2 separate regions of the Homo sapiens genome follow, and region 1 is linked to region 2. Evidence: fine-mapped expression QTL. Tissue or cell type: unexposed skin. Region 2 holds a variant in brackets; the other region holds the start of a gene. All regions are shown on one strand. Distances are from middle to middle.

Region 1 (9,714 bases), 43 kb after region 2:
GGAAAGTGGGGGACCACTGCCATCTTTGCCCTCATGATGAGGAGCTCCAGGAAAGGAAGGCTTCCATCTGGATTTTATGTTCCAACCTGTGCAAGAAGGGGTGGCTGGGTGGGGAAGGACAGCTCAGAAGAAAGCCTCAACTCTGGGGTTGGGCATGGTGGCTCACGCCTGTAATCCCAGCACTTTGGGAGGCTGAGGCAGGCAAATCACTTGAAGTCAGGAGTTCAGGACCAGGCTGATCAACGTGGCGAAACCCCATCTCTACTAAAGATACAGAAATTACCCAGGCATGGTGGTGCGTGACTGTAATCCCAGCTACTTGGGAGGCTGAGACATGGGAATTACTTGAACCGGGGAGGTGGAGGTTGCAGCAAGCCAAGATCGCACCGCTGCACTCCAGCCTGGGTAACAGAGGAGGAAAAAAAAAAAAAAAAAACGGCCTCTACTCTGGAACTCTGGGTCTACAGCAGGTTTCCCTCAACTTTACAGGCAACTAGCCTCAGCCACACCACTCTTGGCCCCCAAGGAAGAGCTCCTCAGCACCCATGCCAGGGTCTCGAAGAAATCCTACTTAATAGAGAAGCCAGTACAGGGCAAATATAACCTCACTCTCCATCCTGATCACACCCTCATTCCTTGCCCTTGCCCTGAGTTCAAAATGCAGAATCTCTGGGCAGGACTGGAGAGTGAGAGGTTCTCTCTCCCTCTCTCATCCTGCAGATAGGAAGTGATCCCTTCCCTTCCAGCTCTCCAGTCCCTTTGATGAGCCAAGGCAGGAGGATTATTCCAAAGCTCCTGACTCTGACCCGGCCACAATTTGTGGCTTTCTACTCAGAATTCCCCAGTGTTCCCCTCTCCCCACTACTCTGGCAGAGCAGTTGGCTTCTCCGTCTCTCTCTGACACAAGCCCCCATCTTCCTTTAGTGCCACCAGCTGGACAGTCAGGCCAGAGGGACTGGGGAAGAGCCTGGGACATTCAAAGGCCTCCTGTGGACCATGATCCCTGACCGCCCCCAGGGCTGGGCATGGGGAAGCAGAAGATACCTGTTTTAAGCAGGTAGGGAAGGAGTGTGGTTGGAAGAGCCAGAATCAGGAGCTGACATCTTGGAGGCCCCTCTGCTAGGGATTGGGGAACACCTCTGCACCTCTTCCCCCAAATCTGGAGACCTAAGTACACCAAGTGACAAGAAATGAAAATGTATAATTGAAGATTTTAAGACAAAAGAGCAGAATTTGGGTGGGGTGGGGAGGAAAGATCTCCTGGCAGGACAGAGGGTCAGTTCTGGCCAGTTCCTTTCCAGCCTGGACTGGGGCCTCAACCTGTCCTTGGGCTATAGGACTGTGCCCCAAAAAGACTGGGAGAGGAGTCGCAGGTGTGTCTGGGGGAGGGGCAGGTAGCACATGTTCCCAGCAGAACCAGCCCAGCAGTTCTGTCAAGCAGGCCCTAGCACTGACGCACACTTGGGCACCCTTCCGGATCAATGCACACTCACCCCAATCCTGCCAGCTACAGGGATGGGGAGGGGACCAAATCTGAGCTTCTGGCAGCGCTGGGTAGGAAGAAGCAAGTTCTTTAGGAAACCTTCCCCAGAAGTGGGGGTTGCCGGCACCTTCTCTTTCTCCCCAGGTCCTTTCATCTGATTCCGGAGAAGAGGAGACAGAATTGGGGAGAAGCAGGGTGTGAACGCTGAACCTGCTCTGGGGATTGTGTGTTTGCACAAAAGGTGGCAGGGGGTGGCTGGAGGGCTCGACAACTGGAAAGAATTGTGCTTGTTTTTTTTCTTTTTTAGAGACATGGTCTCCCTATGTTGCCCAGGCTGGTCTTGAACTCCTGGGCCCAAGCCATCCTCCTGCCTCAGCCTCCCAAAGTGCTGGGATTACAGGCGTGAGCCACTGTGCCCGGCCTTGTGCTTAGTTCTTACTCACTGCTCCCACCCAGAAGATTAAGAGGATCTAAGGGTTCTGTTATCAGACATAGCTGGCCCTGGTGCTGGTGAGTAGGGGCACTCAAGCCCTTGTAATATTAGCATTTTATTCTTACAATCACCACAAATACTGGGGGCTTATGTCTTCCCCCTTCTATCTTGGAGTCTGGAGGGTGTATGTCCAGCAGTCCTCTCTGCCACCAAGCACAAACAGCTACTACTTCTGCCCCTCTCGTGAGAAGAGCTACCATTCCCAGAGCTGGAAAACTCATGGCTTAGTCACCAGGGCCAGGCTGGCTCAATCCAGCCCAGGCCTCCCTAGCACCAGCCGCTGCCATCATGCCAGTGAGCCAGTCAGCAGGATTGAGTACACAGAGGTGACTTAAGGCCAGGGAGGAATTACTTTCCACTCTCACCACATCTTACAAGGAGGAAAAAAATCAAACCAACCTAAGACTGGGGAAGTGGGGAGGATGGGAACAGAATGGCTCTTTGAGGACTTACCTATATAGACTTAGGTGTCACCAAGGTCAAGAACCTAGGAGTAGCTCAGACTAGCAAAATTTGAAGTTAAATCTGCAAGGAGCAGTTGATATAAGGGACAAGTAAGACCCAGAGGATGAGGGGAGGGGTGTTAAATCAGAGAAAAAGGAAGTGACCCCACCCAAAAAACTACAGAGATCAGGCAATAGCTTGAGGGGTTTTCCACTCCCCCCTATAATTTTCACAAGCCATCCCGTAACACACAATCTAATTTTTATAAGTGCTTGCTTTGCAAATTCAGCTTCAAGATAAATCTCCCTCCCCCTGCGCCACAACCCCATATAGAAATCTTGAATTGTCTCTGGGGCAAGATAAGGAGAGGAAAATGCCCCAGACCAAGGTAAGAGCTACAGTTATCAGTCTTTAATAACTTACAGGCAAATGCTAAAAAATAGTTAATAACAATAATACAGAGGACACACACAGCTTATAAAAAGGGTCATGGATCTACAAATGTGGGGAGGGGTTCTTGGCACTTTCACAGACACAAAAATAAAAACTATGTGACTGGTATTCCTAGAAAAGCAGCCTGGGGAGACTCCCCAGTTGGGGGACAGAGGAAGGGGAGATAGTTATTTCATCCCAAACACATTCTCCAAGTCACTTCCATCCCCCCGCCCCCAAACACATCCAATTAAAAATTTTTAGCCAGAGAAGAAAAATAAGAAACAGGGTCGAGGTAGAGTCACAGTTTACATTTACGTCTCCACAGTCCTGCAGCGCCCACTTCTCCAGAGAGGATGAGAGAGATATGCAAAGACATCCCATCTCCCATCCCCACCCCAGTGTGGCACCAAAACGGGACACCCCATGCTCCTCTCTCCTTCATTGAGGTGGACAGGTCCTGCACCCCAGTCTGACTGAGAGGTCACAGGCTGGTCCCACCCTGCTGTCCAAGTGTGCAGACCCCTACTAGGTGGGAGGAAAGGGAGGGGGGGCTTGGGTCACCGTCTCTTCTTGCCACCCCGAGCTGCCTTCTTCCTCTTGAGGATCATCTCATAGAGGCGCTCAAGGCCCTGCTGCAGGCCCAGACCGTCCACAGCGCTGCAGCCTTGCACATGAGTGAGAGTGGCGGCTGCTAGCTCTCGGACTGCCAGCCTCTTCTCCACCTCAGCAGCGCTCAGTGCCCCGGGCTGGTCCTGCTTGTTGGCCAGCACCAGCACTGGCACGCCCTGGTTGTCCGAGGCCCGGCTGATTCGGTGCAACTCCACCTTGGCTTCCTCCAGCCGCTCAGCCTCCGCAGCGTCCACCACAAACACTAGACCGTCTGTCCGGCGGGTATAAGAGCGCCACAGTGGTCGCAGCTTCTCCTGCCCCCCGACGTCCCACACTTGGAAGGTGATGCCACGCGATCCCCCGAGGGGCACCCGGATCTTCTCGGTGTTGAAGCCTTTGGTGGGGACACTCTGGACAAACTCCTTGAACTTGAGGCGGTAAAGGAGGGAGGTCTTTCCAGCAGAGTCCAGCCCAATGACCACGACATGCAGGGCTTGGAAGTGGGGCAAGAAGGAGGAGGCAGTGGGCGCCATCTCAGTCAAGTGGTTCCCCATAGTGAGCTAAGGCGCCTAGTAGAGGCAGGGAGGCCTTGAAATTGAAGGTTCCAGGGAGCACAGCTGGGTTATCTGAACCAAGAAAAGGTCATGGGAGAAAAAGGAGACGTTTAATAATACACACAAGATTTGCAACTTCTTGATCCCTTCCTAAATCACCCTCCCATCCTTCATTTTTAAAATTCCTTTCCTTTTTTTTTTTTTTTTTAAGGCATAACAGAGGTGTTCCCCCACTCCCTGGGGGGGTCGTGAGGGGGGCGATGGGACCTAGAGAGACTCCCAGGTCCTGGGCCACTCAAGTGGGGGGTGAGGGCTCGATCCATGGACAGTGGGCTTCTAGAGCCTCTTCTCAGAGCTTATGGCGCCATCCCCCAGGCAAGATCCCCGAGGGACGGGGGAAGTCGACAGTGCCCCCAAACTAAGAGCTAGGGTGCAGACGCTGAGACCGGAGATTGAGTCCGGCTCCCACCCGCCCTCCGCAGCCCCAAGCCGTTGACACGGTGCCCTTCCTTACTCCGCGACCCTCGCCCCACCGCCCCGCGACACTCTCCTGCCCGCCCGCCCTCCTCCGATGGCCGACCCCAGCTCCAGCGGCCCGGCACCGGGACCGCCTCAGCACGGTCTGCAGGGTCCGTTTACCTCTCGTGAGCCGCGCTCTCCTCGAGCCTTTCCCGGTGAAACACCGCAGCCGCCCCGCGAGACCCCCGCAGACACCCACCGCGCCTCCAACCGCTGCCTCTGCAGAGCCTGCCTAGGGTTCGGCCTTAAAAACCCGCGTGTGACGTCACAAGGCGCGGGACAATCAGCGGCGGCGGGGCGGAGCGTGGAGCTACGGGCGCTGCAGCCCCCACCATACGCGGAGGGGCGTTTGCTTAATCCGTGGCTGCTCTATTTGACCTTTTCTACCACACTCTAATATTTGGAATTAAACTTGGAATTAATGCAGAATGGAGGGTGGGAGGGGCGAAAGGAACGTGCCTGGCAACGTTTGACTCGGGAGGAAAGATATGAATACCCTAATATTCTCACTACCATCGCATCCCCCTCCACCAGGCCGAGATACCACCCCACATGGACACTCCTTCGGCCAAAGGATCTACTCGGAGAGGCTGACAAGTCTTTCTCCTTTATCTTTCATAATTCAATTGTCAAACCTAAGGTGAACCTGGAGCCCCATAAAACAGCTGCTTCATAGTGCTAAGCCCATTATCTGCAATAGCCTGTTAGGGACTGTTGTCTGCCTTTTACAGATACACAAAGCCCTGAAGGGTTAAATGACCTATTTGAGGTTACACTCAACAGTATGTTTAGGCGCAGTGGATCATACCTGTAAACTCAGCACTTTGGGAGGCTGAGGCAGGCACATCACTTAAGCTCAGGAGTTCCACCAGCCTGGACAACAGGGTGAAACCCCATCAGTAATAAAAAGACAAAAATTAGCCGGGCGTGGTGGCGGGTGCCTGTAATCCCAGCTACTCGGGAGGCTGAGGCAGGAGAATCGCTTGAACCCGGGAGGCGGAGGTTGCAGTAAGCTGAGATAGCGCCACTGCATTCCAGCCTGGGCGACAGAGCAAGACTCTGTCTCAAAACAAAGCAAACAAAAAAAAAAAACCAGTGTGTTTATTGGGCTGGGCACGGTAGCTCACGCCTGTAATACCAGCATTTTGGGAGGCCGATGTGGGCGAAGCACCTGAGGTCAGGAGTTCGAGACCAGCCTGGCCAACATGGTGAAACCCCGTCTCTACTAAAAATACAAAAATTAGCTGGGTGTGGTGGCGGGCGCCTGTAATTGCAACTATTCGGGAGGCTGAGGCAGGAGAATCACTTGAACCCGGGAGGCGGAGGTTGCAGTGAGCTGAGATCACACCATTGCACTCCAGCCTGGGCAACAGAGCAAGACTCTGTCTCAAAAAAAACAAAAACAAAACAAAACAAAACAAAAAACACTGTGTTTATTGACCTCATTCATACTGTGTGCTCTGAATGAGACAGAGAGATGGTGGAGAAATAGAGGATGTCTCGGCTGTAGAATCAGGCCTCAAAGGGCTTAAGACTTAAGACTGGCAATGACAGAATGAGACAGCACATGTATTGGGTCTTTGTAAATCATGAGATAGCACTTGTAGGATTTCAGAGAAGAGAGAGAATGTGTCAACTGGAAGCTTCTGAAAAGGTTTATAGACGTTCTTTAGCCCTATCTAGGACTGGTTAGGAGGGGCACAGGAATGAGTAGGGTCTCCCCAGCCACTGCAGCCTGCTACAGTCTGGGCAGCCCTGAAAGGAAGGAGATGTCACAAAGGGCAGTGTGACCAAAAGGACAACAGCAATTAGGTGGGGGAGAGAAGAGGGCCAATCAAAGAAGAATGAAATTGTAAATTGTAACTTTATCTATTTATTTATTTATTTATTTATTTATTTATTTTTGAGACAGAGTTTTGCTCTTGTTACCCAGGCTGGTGTCCAATGGTGCGATCTCGGCTCACTGCAACCTCCACCTCCCAGGTTCAAGCAATTCTCCTGCCTCAGCCTCCCGAGTAGCTGGGATTATAGGCATGTGCCACCACGCCCGGCTAATTTTGTACTTTTAGTACAGACAGGATTTCTCCATGTTGGTCAGGCTGGTCTCGAACTCCCGATCTCAGGTGATCCGCCCGCCTCGACCTCCCAAAGTGTTGGGATTTACAGGCGTGGATTATTTTATTTATTGTGTAATTCAGTATTAATCTTTTTAAGGGCTATGTGTGAGAGGGATTGGAAAAAGGAGAAGGGAAGTCATTGCCAGACAGCACGGCCCAGCCTTTTCCTGCCCACCCTCCTCAATCAAGTGCTGATAAATAAGCTTCCCATCTGTTTGTCACCAGTGTGCTTTGCCACCTCCTTTTTCTCCCCTCCACTACAAAACCAGCCACCTGGTTTCCCCAGCAATGCAGGGAGCCTCCCCAAATCCCTAAAGACCTTAGGAAATTAGTCTAAGATTAAGACCTTAGGAAATTAGTTTGTTACACCCCAAGTTGGAGGGTGACAGGTTGCAGCAGCAGCTAACGTACAGGAGACAGACCTGAGCATGGTGAAGTTAGGAGAGGGGAAGACGGAGCAGGCCCAGCGGTTGAGAACCACTGCACTGTTGAGTGGCCACTGCATGCCAGGCTCTGGTCTAGGAACTTTGCTTACTTTTCCTTTTTTAATACACAAGTCAAGCCCATGAAGTAAGTATGGTTAGTCTAAAAAGAAGAAACTGAAGCACAGAAAGGTTAGGTAATTTGTTGAAGGTCATCCAGCTAGAAACTGGCCAAACCTGGCTTTGAACAAATGTTACAATGGCTATGAGACTGAAAACACACAAAAACTGAAAATACACAAGTTGTCTTGTTTCTTCCACAATCTTTGAAGCTTCTTTAACATGGCTCCTATAATCTGTCTTGGGACTCACATCCAAGACAGAAATTGTCACTTATCTGATAAAGGAAATGAAACTGACAATCCTACCCCACCCTTCCGTCTTTCATGTTTGCCAGAGAAGGTGTTAATGAACAAATGGGAAGGAGAAGGTGGGGCTGGGGAGGGGTAAAAAAAGGGGCCCAGCTCGTCCAGGTAGCACTAAGCTATGGGCTTACACTAATCCCTGCAGAGAACATCTGAACATTTGTACATTAAGCAATCATTTTTTTTTGAACGATACAGAAATTAGCATGGCCCCGTGCAAGGATGACTTGCAAATTCATGAAGCATTCCCTATTTTTTCAAAATTAAAATAAAAATAATTTTTTTTTTTTTTGAGACGGAGTCTCGCTGTTTTGCCCAGGGCGGACTGCAGTGGCGCTATCTCGGCTCACTGCAAGCTCCACTTCCCGGGTTCATGCCATTCTCCTGCCTCAGCCTCCCGAGTAGCTGGAACTACAGGTGCCCGCCACCGCGCCCAGCTAATTTTTAGTATTTTTAGTAGAGACGGAGTTTCACCGTGTTAGCCAAGATGGTCTCAATCTCCTGACCTCGTGATCCGCCCGCCTCGGCCTCCCAAAGTGCCGGGATTACAGGCATGAGCCACCGCGCCCGGCCTTTTTTTTTTTTTTTTAAAGACAAGGTCTCACTCTGTCACCCAGGCTGGAGTGCAGTGGCGAGACCATAGCTTACTGCAGCCTTGAACTCTTCGGTTCAAGAGATCCTCCGCCTCAGACTCCTGAGTAGCTGGGATTACAGGTGCGTGCCACCACATGTGGCTGGAGAACTACTTTAGATTGGTGGAAGAGTGTGCAGGAGAAAGTTTCAAAGCGGCGACGCTGAGCCAAGGTTTAAGTGACACTGAGTCAGATAAGCATCATTCTTCCTCAGAGCTGTCTCCTCCACCAGACTACGTGATCAAGGGCAGCAGCTGGTTCTTATCTGTAGCTCTACCATGCCCAGCACCATGCCTGGCACACATAGGCAGTCAGAAAATCTTGTGTGAATTAATGAATGCATGATGGAATAAATGTACTCAGAGGGCTCCCTGAGTAGGAGAACCAAACCTCCACCCTTAGCGTGGGAGTTTCCCAGCCTGGGGTCCTTGGGCCCTTGGGCCCTTGGGGGTTCTGTTGATACTGGGTTGGCCAGGAATTCCTACAAACCCTGCATTTCTAGGCAGTGTCTGAGTAGTATAGAACTCTCAGGCCTTTATTGGAGAGGAGGAACTTAAAGGAGAAAAACAAGGACCAAAAATGGGGATGACACTGGAGAGACAGGTTGCCCTTAGGACATGCTGGAACACCAGACTGAGATTCAGTGCGTGAGTCCCATCCTTCCATTCCTCACTAGTAGAGTGACTTGAAAAAGTAAAAAGCCACTTCCGGCCGGGCCCAGTGGCTCGCGCCTATAATGCCAACACTTTGGGTGGCTGAGGCGGATGGATCACCTGAAGTTAGGAGTTCAAGACCAGCCTGGCCAACATGTTGAAACCTCGTCTCTACTAAAAATACAAAAAAATTAGCAGGGCGTGGTGGCGCACGCCTGTAGTCCCAGCTACTCCGGAGGCTGAAGCAGGAGAATAGCTGGAACCGGGAAGGCGGAGGTTGCAGTGAGCCGAATTGCGCCACTGCACTCCAGCCTGGGCGACAGAGCGAGACTCCGTCTCAAAAAAAAGTAACTTCCCCACCTGGGAGCCTCGGTTTCCTCATCCTGTAATGAGGGGCTTTAGATGTCTCCAGGTCGTTTCCCCATAACAGCCCATGCTCTGAAGTAAGGGAGGGTAGGAGGATGGGTGGAGCTCTTCTAGGAAGTGGCTGAGAACATCCTTGTCTCTGCAGCATCTTAACCAAGTACTTGTCTTCGTGAACAAACGAGGGAAAGAGGAGTCTGCAGGAGTAGGGGGTGGGGTGGGGGAATGGACGCCACGGAGCAGTTACCAGCTCGGCAATCACGAAGGCCCATTTTTCAAATCCCAGTTCTGTTTCCTCATGAACAAAATTGAGAAAACCCAACCTATCGCTAAGTATGAGTGTGGGGCAAAAATGTGCGAAAGGGCCCCAAAGATACCCTTCTCCCCAACCAGGAACTCTTTCCCTGGCAACCACCCCAAAATCAAGGCCTAGGGTGGAGCCAGGGGCTAGAAATAAGTAGATGCTGCCCCCTGGTGGATGTATTTGTCACCGCCTGATTGGTGAAGAAAAGCGGAGTCTTAGTGGATGAAGTTATTCAGGTTCCTTTGTCAGCTCCCGAAGTCT
Region 2 (11,025 bases):
GGGAGCCATAATTGTACCACTGCACTCCAGCCTGGGAGGCAGGGCGAGACTGTCTCAAACAAACAAACAAAAAAGAAGTATCAATCTGAATCCCATAAATATGTACAATCATTACATGTAAACTAAAAATAAAAGTATAAATAATCACCAAATGGGAGAAAAACAATGCTTGGCATATAGTAGGCATTCAATAAATATTTGTAGAATTAATAGTCCCAGTGAAGCAGCCAGTCATTCATTCTATTGCAAAATAGCTCAAATGAAAAGAAATTTATGAAATTTTTTTTTACTAATGTTAAGCTGAAATCACACCTATATAAAAAGATTTATGGGTCGGTTTCGGTGGCTCATGCCTGTAATCCCAGCACTTTGGGAGGCCAAGGCAGGCAGATCACTTGAGGTCAGGAGTTCAAGATCAGTCTGGCCAATATGGCAAAACCCTGTCTCTAATAAAAATATAAAAAGTAGCCGGGTGTGGTGGTACACATCTGTAATCCCAGCTACTTGGGGGGCTGAGGCAGGAGAATTGCTTGAACTCAGCAGGCAGAGGTTGCAGTGAGCCGAGATTGCACCACTGTACTCCAGCCTAGGCGACAGAGCAAGACTCCGTCTCAGAAAAAAAAAAAAGTATCCAAGACCAAGAAAATGAAAATATACATTCACACAAAAACTTGTACAAGAATGTTTATAGCCGCATTATTCACAATAGCCAAAAAGTGCAAACAACCCAAATGTCCATCAGCTGATGAATAGATAAATGAAATGTGGTATATCCATACAATGGAATATTATTCATCAATAAAAAGGAATGTAGTACTAATACATGCTACAACACAGATAAACCCTGAAAACAGCATGCTAAGTGAAATAAGCTTGACATAAAAGGCCACAGATTGTGTGATTTCATTTATGTGACATATCAAGAGTAGGCAAAGCCATAGAGGGAGAGAGTCTCTATGGCTCGTATTTGCCAGGGGGTGGGCGGAAGGGGAAATGGGGAGAAGCTACTGTGGATTCGGGGTATTTTGGGGAGACGAGATAAAAATGTTCTGGAATTACTGGTGATGGTGGCACAACTTTACAAATATACTAAAAACACGAAATTTTACATTTTTTTTCTTGTAAATCTAGGTCTGAACAGATAATTGTATAATTTGGTAACTTGTTTTCCTCTCTTTTTTAGAGACAAGGTCTTTCTCTGTCACCCTAGCCAGAGTGTAGTGACGTGATCATAGCTCACTGTAACCCCAAACTCTTGGGCTCAAGCAATCCTCCTGTCTCAGCCTCCTGAGCAGCTAGGATTAAAGGCACTTGCCACCATCCCCAGCTAATTTTATTTATTTATTTATTTATTTATTTATTTATTTATTTATTTATTCATTCATTCATTTATTGGTAGAGACAGGGTCTCGCTGCATTGCCCAGGCTGGTCTCAAACTCCTGGCCTCAAGTGAGCCTCCGCCTAGGCATCCCAAAACCCTGGGATTGTTTTTTTTGAGACAGAGCTTCACTCTTCTTGCCTAGGCTGAAGTGCAATGGCGAGATCTTGGCTCACCGCAACCTCCACCTCCCGGGTTCAAGCAATTATCCTGCCTCAGCCTCCTGAGCAGCTGGGATTACAGGCATGCGCCACCATGCCCGGCTAATTTTGTATTTTTAGTAGAGATGGGGTTTCACCATGTTGGTCAGGCTGGTCTGGAAATCCTGACCTCAGGTGATCTGCCCGCCTCGGCCTCCCAAAGTACTGGGGATTACAGGTGTGAGCCACCACACCCAGCCTTTTTTTTTTTTTTTGAGACAGAGTCTTGCTCTGTCACCCAGGCTGGAGAGCAGTGGCACAATCTTGGCTCACTGCAACCTCCGCCTCCTGGGTTCAAGCGATTCTCTCGCCTCAGGCTCCCGAGTAGCTGGGATTACAAGCACACACCACCATGCCCGGCTAGTTTTTGTATTTTTAGTAGAGATGATGTTTCACCATATTGGACAGTCTGGTCTTGAACACCTGACCTCAGGTGATCTACCCACCTCGGCCTCCCAAAGTGTTGAGATCATAGGCGTGAGCCACCGTGCCTGGCCTCAAAACCCTGGGATTACAGGTGGGAACCACTGCATATGGCTGAGTTGTACACTTTAAAAAAAATTTTTTTTTAAATATGGAACACTTCACAAATTACAGTGTCATCTTTGAGCAAGGGTCATGCTAATTTTCTTTGTATCATTCCAATTTTAGTATATGTGCTGCTGAAGTGAGCATTGAATTGTATAATTTAAAAGGGTAAATTTTGTGGTATACTATACTAGTTTTATGGTATACCATAAAATTGTGGGTATACTTTATAAAAATAAAATTATGGTATGTAAAATGTTACGGTATACCATAAAATTATGGTATACTTTATGGTATACCATTAAATTGTACTCAGGCAGTATGAAAAACTCAGTATAAAAAAATTCATAGACCTGTACACCAACAGAAAAAATTTTACTGCATAATTTAAAAAATAAAAAAAAAATTAAGTCCTGTGTCCGAAAGGCAGGAGCCAGGTTCTCACCTGTTGTGTGTCACCTAAGTTGCCTCATACAATAAATGCTGAGGACAGTGGTTCCCGGACGTGGGTACATGTCCAGGAACCACCTGGTTGGGGGAGGTCTTTGAAAACTTCTGATGCCTGGCAACCGCCCCCAGGCATTCAGATTTAATTGGTCTGAGGTACAACCTGGGTACTGAGATGTTTTTTTAAAGCTTCCCAGGTGATTCTAACATGCAGCAAAATTTGAGAACCACGGGCTTAGCAAAAGGTTGATGAACAACCATTCTTGGGAGCCAAAAGCTAATCCCCGCCCCACCTTACCTCACTTTCACCTCAAGGCAATCAGATCAGATCTGTCCTTGGCAAAGAGAACAGCTACAGCCAATCCTGCTGTTCACCATGCCGGACAGAAGTAAATCAGAGCATTCTCTCCAGTTCCTTAAGGGCCACTGCTCTCTCTATAAACATGTGGTTGATGAGATCAGCAATTCTGAAGCAGGATCCATTCTACAAAGCATGGTTTCTTCCGTTCTCCCCAGGTTTTCTCTCTCTTGCTGTCCCCATTTGTAGCTGGGGTTGGGAAGTGGAGGAGAGAGAAAGTCACTGAATAAATACATTCTCTGTGTTCTCAATGAACAGACATGAAAGAAAAGAAAAATGGTAAATACATTCCTAGTAGGGTGAGCCTCAGTAGGTTTCTGGATTACCCTTCCCAGAAACATTCATATTTTCAAAGAAGACCTCCTGGTAAACGAAGACATGAGTCACTAGTAAGGAAGGTTTTGAGGGACAGGGTCTCTTTCCTTTAACTTCCCAGACACATGTCTGGACTGGTCCTGATTGTTTGACCTGTCTGTTTTCTTAGAACAGAGCATGAGATCCTAGCTAGCTGCATTCCATTCACTTAACAATTTGTTGTTCGAATTTATTTATTTCAGTTACGATTAGGTTTTGTCTGTGGCATTTATCGTCTTTCTATGCCAAGCAGTCTCACACTAACTTGAAAGCCCTTTTGTATTATCTACTGTGTTTCCTACAGGTGAGTCTTTTCACCTTGTCTTAGTAATTAAGACTTCTGGTTGTAGATTACAAAAACCATCTCAAGCAAGTTTAGGCAACAATGGGAGTTCTCAATGAGATTACAGGTGGAACCAGGAAAGTTAAGCCTCAGGGAGAGCAGGAATCCAGGCATACGTGGTCTTTATCAGGGAGTAGACACCAGGGCCCCACCCCAGTCAATGGGGAAGTCAGATCTCAGAGAATAATAATCATTGAACATGAATTGAATGTCTGCTATGTGCAGGAACATATATTATTGATAACATATTCTTATGTTATCAGTATGAGTTATATTACTATTGCTCTTCCCATTTTATAAATGAGGAAACTGAGGTCCACAGAAGATAAGCAATATGTTCAAGAGCTTCCAGGCCAGGTCCGGTGGCTCACACCTGTAATCCCAGCACTTTGGGAGGCCGAGGCAGGAGGATCACCTGAGCCTCAGAGTTTTGAGTCCAGCCTGGGCAACATAGGGAGACCTTATCTCTACAAAAAATTTAAAAAGTAACCAGGTGTGGTGGTGGTGCCTGTGGTCCCAGCTATTCAAGAGGCTGAGGTAGGAGAATCACTTGAGCCCGGGAGGTAGAGTCTGCAGTGAGCTGTGACTGTGCCACTGGACTGCAGCCTGGGTGGTGGAGAAAGACTCGGTCTCAAAAAAAAAAAAAGAAGTAGGGGGTGGGGGGCAGTTCCAGTTGGCACTGGAACTCAGGCAGTATGGTTTCAGAATTGACACACTTAGCCACCAGGTGAATGGTTCCCTTAAGAGTTGTACAGTGGGCAACCTGCACACCCATACCTGGCAGCCCTGACTATGGACTAGATCAGTGTTTCTCATCAGAGACACTGAGGACATTTGGAGCTAGATAATTTTTTGTGTAGGACTATCCCATCCTTCATTTACTATATGTGAGTGGTAATAACGCTCCCAATCATTGTGACAATCAAAAGCCAATCATTGTGACAATCAAAAGTATCAACCTCTTGAAACTTAAAAAAAAAAGAAAATGAAAAAAAAAAATTTAAGTATCAACCTCAGTTGAGAATCACTAGGATAAGTAGATAGCCCCAAATGATGTCTACATCTATTTTGTGAGCTCTTGATGACCAGTAGCAATGTGACTTCTTTTCCTCTTCCCACAGTAGTTGGCCCAGACAACTGTATACATACTCCACAAATGCTGGATGTGCATTGTCATTAGAGCCTGAAAGGATCCAGAGTCCTCAGCTTGGTGCTTCCCTACCCAGGATGATAGGGATGGAAACATGAGTCATGCATGGTAGATTCACTCCAACATCCTACGGGAAGACACAACAGTTTTCTCAGTTTTTCATTTGGTCCGCTGAACAAGCCAGCATGGTAGAAGGGCAGGAATTAGTCATTCCTATTATGAAAAAAGAATGTAACAGTAAAATTGTTTTTAATTTTGGCAAAGAAAAAAGTAACTATAAGCCTATCCTCTGCACAACTACCCTGTTTTGCATGTTACCTCCTGGCCCTGTCTACATGCTCTCTCTCAGTGTGCACGGTTATAGTCAAAGGGTATACCATCTGGGGTTCTGCTATTTTCACTAAACATTTATAAATGTTTTCCTTGTTGCTACATGGTCTTCATAATGAATGATTTTTTTAATGCCTGCATAGTGTTCCATTGCACAAATCTACTTTTATTTTATTATTATTATTATTGTAGAGGCAGGGTCTCACTCTGTCGCCCAGACTGAGTGCAGTGGCACAATCATAGCTCATTGTGTTATAGGATGGGAAGCCTTGACTGAGTTGTCCAGGTTTTTGGCGTGTTGAACAAAGAATTGAACAAAATGCACAGACAAAACAATAGAAGATGAAAGCATACATTTATTGAAGTGAAAGTGCACTCCACAGAGTGGCTCAAGAACCCTGATTGTAAAGTTTCTTGGGGTTTTCATTGAATTGAAAGAGCATGGTAACACCCCTAAGCACCCTTTAGCAGCGTCTGATAGGTTACACTCTATACAAATGAAAGATTCTGCCCAGGACCAATAAGACGCAGAACTCTGCCCAGGACCAATCAGAGGCATCCCACTTGTGACCTATGAGCAAATGAAGATTTCAGAATGGACCATTTACAGAAATTCCCATTTTTGACATAAGGGAGGGGAGGTTCAGAGAGAGAGGGGCCTTTGGCCCCTCATCACTTGGTCATGGAAAGGTGGGGTTTTTCTTTCAGTCCAATTCCAAGAAGGCAGCTGTGGGTTGGCCTTAGGTTTCCTGCCTCCAGACACTATTCTCCTGCCTCAATTGCAGCCTCAAACTCCTGGCCTCAAGCCATCCTCCAGCCTCAGCCTCTCAAAATGCTGGGATTTCAGGCATGAGCCACTGGATAGGCCCTTCCCTCTCTGAACCTCCCCTCCCTTATGTCAAAAACGGGAATTTCTGTAAATGGTCCATTCTGAAACCTTCATTTGCTCATAGGTCACAGATGGGATGCCTTTGATTGGTCCTGGGCAGAGCTCTGCCTCTTATTGGTCCTGGGCAGAATCCTTCATTTGTATAGAGTGTAACCTATCCAGTAGCATGAACCACACCCAGACTACTTTAATATTAAAAATCTTGGCTGGGTGCGGTGGCTCACGCCTGTAATCCCAGCACTTTGGGAGGCCGAGGCGGGGGGATCACCTGAGGTCAGGAGTTTGAGACCAGCCTGGCCAACATGGTGAAATCCTGTCTCTACTAAAAATACAAAATTAGCCAGGTGTGGTGGTGGGCACCTGTAGTCCTAGCTAGTTGGGAGGCTGAGGCAGGAGAATTGCTG[G/T]AACTTGGGAGGCAGAGGCTGTAGTGAGCTGTGATCATGCCACTGCACTCCAGCCTGGGTGACAGAGTGAGACTCCATTTCAAAAAAAAAAAAAAAACCGTCCATGTATGTGAAATTATACTTCAAGTTGGTTTGAATTTGCATTTCTGTGATTTAGTGCATTGCCATAGTGCTATTTATTATTTCCATTCTTTGTTATATTAATAAATTGTATATAAATTTTTTTTTTTAGATGGAGTCTCGCTCTGTCACCAGGGCTGGAGTGCAGTGGTGCGATCTCGGCTCACTGCAAGCTCCACCTCCTGGGTTCACGCCAATTCTCCTGCCTCAGCCTCCCGAGTAGCTTGGACCACAGGCGCCTGCTACCAGGCCCGGTAAATTTTTTTTTGTATTTTTAGTAGAGATGGGGTTTCACTGTGTTAGCCACGATGGTCTCGATTTCCTGACCTCGTGATATGCCCGTCTCAACCTCCCAAAGTGCTGGGATTACAGGCGTGAGCCACCGCACCTGGCCGTATATAATGTTTACAATGAGAGTTATATTCATTTTACGAATAAAAACTCTGAAGATCAGAGACATTAGGTAAAGTTGCTCAAGTTGACAGAATTGACTAAACTTAGAGTAAACATTTTCTAGCCGGGCACAGTGGTGTGCACCTGCAGTCTCAGCTACTCAGGCGTCTGAGGCCAGATCATTTGAGCACAGGAGTTTGAAACCAGCCTGGGCAACATAGCAAGACCCCCATCTCAAACAACAACAACAACAACAAAAAAACCCAAAATATTTTAGGCCTGCTTAGTCCAATGCCCTTGCCATCCCACCCCATATCCTCCCCCAGCTCAGACATGCTCAGTGATGAAACGAGTGTCTGCGGTTGCAATTCCCTCCCACAAGCAAATGAGGGGCTGATCCAAAGTGCTTCTAAACTCTGTAGTTACTGCTTGCCTGGTTCCAAGCAATCAGCCCAGGTCCAAAGATAAACACAAAGGCAGCCCCAGAAAGGATCCTGGCACCTCCGGCCCCCTTCTGGCCTCTTCTGCTCTAGGTCTTGTAGAATGAATAAGAGAGTCTGAATATTTCACCTCCAGTAATTTCCTTAAGGTAGTAATTCCTAGACCTGGCTGCTTCCATGAGTCCCTTGCAAGAACTCTTCCACAGATTCTGGCCTGTGGAATCGGGATCTCCAGGGACCAGGGCTTGATGATCTATAGTTTTTAACACCCTCCAATTAATTATGAGGCTCACCTAGGTTTAGGACCCACTGCCTTAGAGTTTATGAAATCACCTAGGCAAGCTTGTCAAAATGCAGATTCCCAGCCTACCAGGGATCCGGTGTAGGGCCATGGAATCTGCATTCCAACAATCATGATGTCCACAGTCCACACAAAGGGGACCATCAAGGACCAGGAAAGAGCCTCTGCAAAAAGCAAATAAATAAATAAAATAATAATAATAAACAAAAAAATAACTCGTTGGCTTGAAAGTAGGGTAAACTTTTTTTTTTTTTTTTTTTTTTTTGAGGTGGAGTCTGGCTCTGTCGCCTAAGCTGGAGTGCAGTGGCTCAGTCTCGGCTCACTGCAAGCTCCGCCTCCTGGGTTTTCAAGCCATTCTCCTGCCTCATCCTCCCGAGTAGCTGCGACTACAGGCGCCCACCACCACGCCCAGCTAATTTTTTGTATTTTTAGTAGAGATGGGGTTTCACCGTGTTAGCCAGGATGGTCTCGATCTCCTGACCTCGTGATCTGCCCCCCTCGGCCTCCCAAAGTGCTGGGATTACAGGCGTGAGCCACCGCGCCCGGCCAATAATTTTTTCTTTTTTTTTTTAAAGAGCCTCTGCAGCCACCATTTTTCTGATTTAGTTAAAATGTAGACAAGCTTCAATTGGAAATGGCTTTTGCCAGAGGAACCAACTAGACTTTCTATAAATCCGGTTTTCTCATCCAGCTCTAAAGCATTAGCATAAAAGCAATGGAGAGAGAAGGAAAAGGAGAACCTCTGCCTCCCAAGTAGAAGGGGGGCTGCGGTGGACAGCATGGCAGGTGGTGTTTATCTGCAATCATGGGCTATTCTTCAACTCCCAAACAGCCTCTTAGCTGCAAATTGTTCATCAGCATCATCACTTAGCCATTCATCCCAGGAACTGATGGCAGCAACTTAAGTTGCCTTATTTTTCCCTTTCCCAAATTGAACTCCTAAAGAGCCAGCAGAGACTGGAAGCCACACAAAGCACCACCTCCTGTGTGACAGGACACACCCCCCATCCCTGGGGGTGGACCATCAGCCCTTGGACTTAAAACAAAGGAGTCAGGTTTGTTTTCTAAGGCAAAAATCACAAAGACATTTTTACATAAGTTCCAAAATACATTTCCCTTTACTGGAGGTCGGAAAAAGAGGATATTTAACTTCAGACTTATAGTAATCTTCCTACTTTCTCCACTGAATACTTATCTGTGAGCAGGGCTCTGGGGTCTCAGCTTGTATCCAATAACTTGACAGACAGGGTTTGCTTCTGAAGCAAGTAATTTGTTTTATCTGACTGTCCCTTGGGGCAGTTTCACAGCATGTCAAAAGCCAGCACCTTGGAGACAAAGGACACATGTATCTTTGCTTCATGATCTGCAAACACCGGTTTTGTGGTGACAAAAACCATTAAATTAAGATGCCATGGGATTAAAATTACAGTTAAAAATATTTTAAAGTATATATCGGCTGGGCACGGTGGCTCACGCCTGTAATTCCAGCACTTTGGGAGGCCAAGGAGGGCGGACCACGAGGTCAAGAGATCGAGACCATCCTGGCCAACCTGGTGAAACCCTGTCTCTACTAAAAATACAAAAATTAGCTGGGCATGGTGACGCGTGCCTGTAGTCCCAGTACTCGGGGGGCTGAGGCGAAAGAATTGCTTGAACCCGGGAGGCAGAGGTTGCAGTGAGCCAAGATCATGCCACTGCACTCCAGCCTGGCGACAAAGTGAGACTCCGTGTCAAAAAAAAAAAAAAAAAGTATATTGACAAAGTATATTGACAAAGATTAAAAGGAATTTTAATACCCAGTTTTGGCAAAGATGCAAGAAGTGGGCAGCCCTCTCCTGTACTTCCTGAAGGGCCACTGGGCAATTTGAGTCGCAAGCTCTAAAAATTAGGCAAAACCCATGGCCCATCAATACACTTTTAGAAATTTATCTTGGGGGTGGACAGGGGAGACAAAGATGCACAGATATTACTTGCAGTGATTCTCTGTAATATTAAAAAATGGAAATGAACTAAATATTCAAGGTTAAGAGAATAAAAATTGCAGAGTAGACATACAATGGGATCTTAGTGAGCTCTAAAAAAGAAACCGTGCTATAAGACAGGAGTCAGGAAACACACCCACAAGCCAAATGAATGTCCATCCTGTTTTTGTAAATAAAGTTTTATTGAAACACAGCCACACTCATTTGTTTATGTGTTGTCTATGGCTGTTTTCATGCTAGAACAACAGAGTTGCAACAAACTGTATGGCCCACAAAGCCTGAAACATTTGCTACCTAGACCTTTATAGAAAAAGCTTGCCAACTAATATTCAATATTCTTGCTATAGAAGAATATTTACTAACAAAGGCAAATGTTCATGATATATTGCTAAGTGAAGATAAAAAATCAGGGTTGGGCGCAGTGGTTCACACCTGTAATCCCAGCATTTTGGGAGGCCGAGACAGGAAGATCACTTGAGCCCAGGAGTTTTAGACCACCCCATCTCTACAAAAAATAAAAAATTAGCTGGGTGTGGTGGCCTGTGCTACTTGGGAGGCTGAGGTGGGAAGATAGCTTGAGCCCAGGAGGTGGAGGTTGCAGTGAGCCAAGATCGCACCACTGCACTCCAGCCTGGATGACAGAGCCAGACCCTGTCTCAAAAACAAACAAACAAACAAACAAACAAAAAAACAAAAAAAAAAACACAAGCCATCGCATAATGCCATTTTGTTATGCATAGAAATAAAACTGAAAGAGGCTGGGCATGGTGGCTCCTGCCTGTAATCCCAACATTGTGGGAGGCCGAGGAGGGCGGATGACCCGAGGTCAGGAGTTCAAGACCAGCCTGGCCAACATGGCGAAACCCCTCCTTTACTAAAAATATACAAATGAGTGGGGCATGGTGGTGCATGCCTGTAATCCCAGCTACTTGGGGGGCTGAGGCAGGAGAATCCTTGAACCTAGGAGGTGGAGGTTGCAGTGAGACAAGATCATGTCATTGCACTCCAGCCTGAATGACAGAGCAAGACACTATCTCAAAAATAAATAAATAAATAAATAAGGATGGGCACGGTGGCTCACGCCTGTAATCCCAGGACTTTGGGAGGCTGAAGTGGGCAGATCTCCTGAGTTCGGGAGTTCGAGACAAGCCTGACTAACATGGAGAAACCCCTTCTCTATTAAAGATACAAAATTAGCTGGGTGTGGTGGCGCATGCCTGTAATCCCAGCTACTCAGGAAGCTGAGGCAAGAGAATCACTTGAATCCGGGAGGCGGAGGTTGCAGTGAGCTGAGATGGTGCCATTGTACTCCAGCCTGGGCAACAGAGGGAAACTCTCAAAAAAACACAACAAAACAAAAAACAAAGCATTTTTTTTTTTGAGACGGAGTCTCGCTTTGTCACCCAC

The links. PIP is the estimated chance that this variant, and not a neighbour inherited with it, causes the effect.
Region 1: ARL4D starts here. The variant in region 2 is fine-mapped to the expression of ARL4D in unexposed skin (GTEx, PIP 0.99).

What each region holds. Positions count from the first base shown.
Region 1 is chr17:43,394,037-43,403,750 of GRCh38, reverse strand. ARL4D (ARF like GTPase 4D) reads right to left here and starts at 4,758. Exons shown (of 2, transcript NM_001661.4): 1 at 4,658-4,758; 2 at 2,614-4,090. The coding sequence starts at 4,018. The coding sequence ends at 3,413. It also overlaps the pseudogene RNU6-1137P. RefSeq lists an enhancer at 4,131-4,634.
Region 2 is chr17:43,436,736-43,447,760 of GRCh38, reverse strand. It overlaps MIR2117HG (MIR2117 host gene), which reads right to left and starts at 3,054. Exons shown (of 2, transcript NR_146952.1): 1 at 2,853-3,054. It overlaps MIR2117 (microRNA 2117), which reads right to left and starts at 2,955; the gene lies at 2,876-2,955. It also overlaps the pseudogene RNU6-406P. RefSeq lists an enhancer at 8,331-9,095. The variant G/T (reference allele first, on the strand shown) is at 6,383.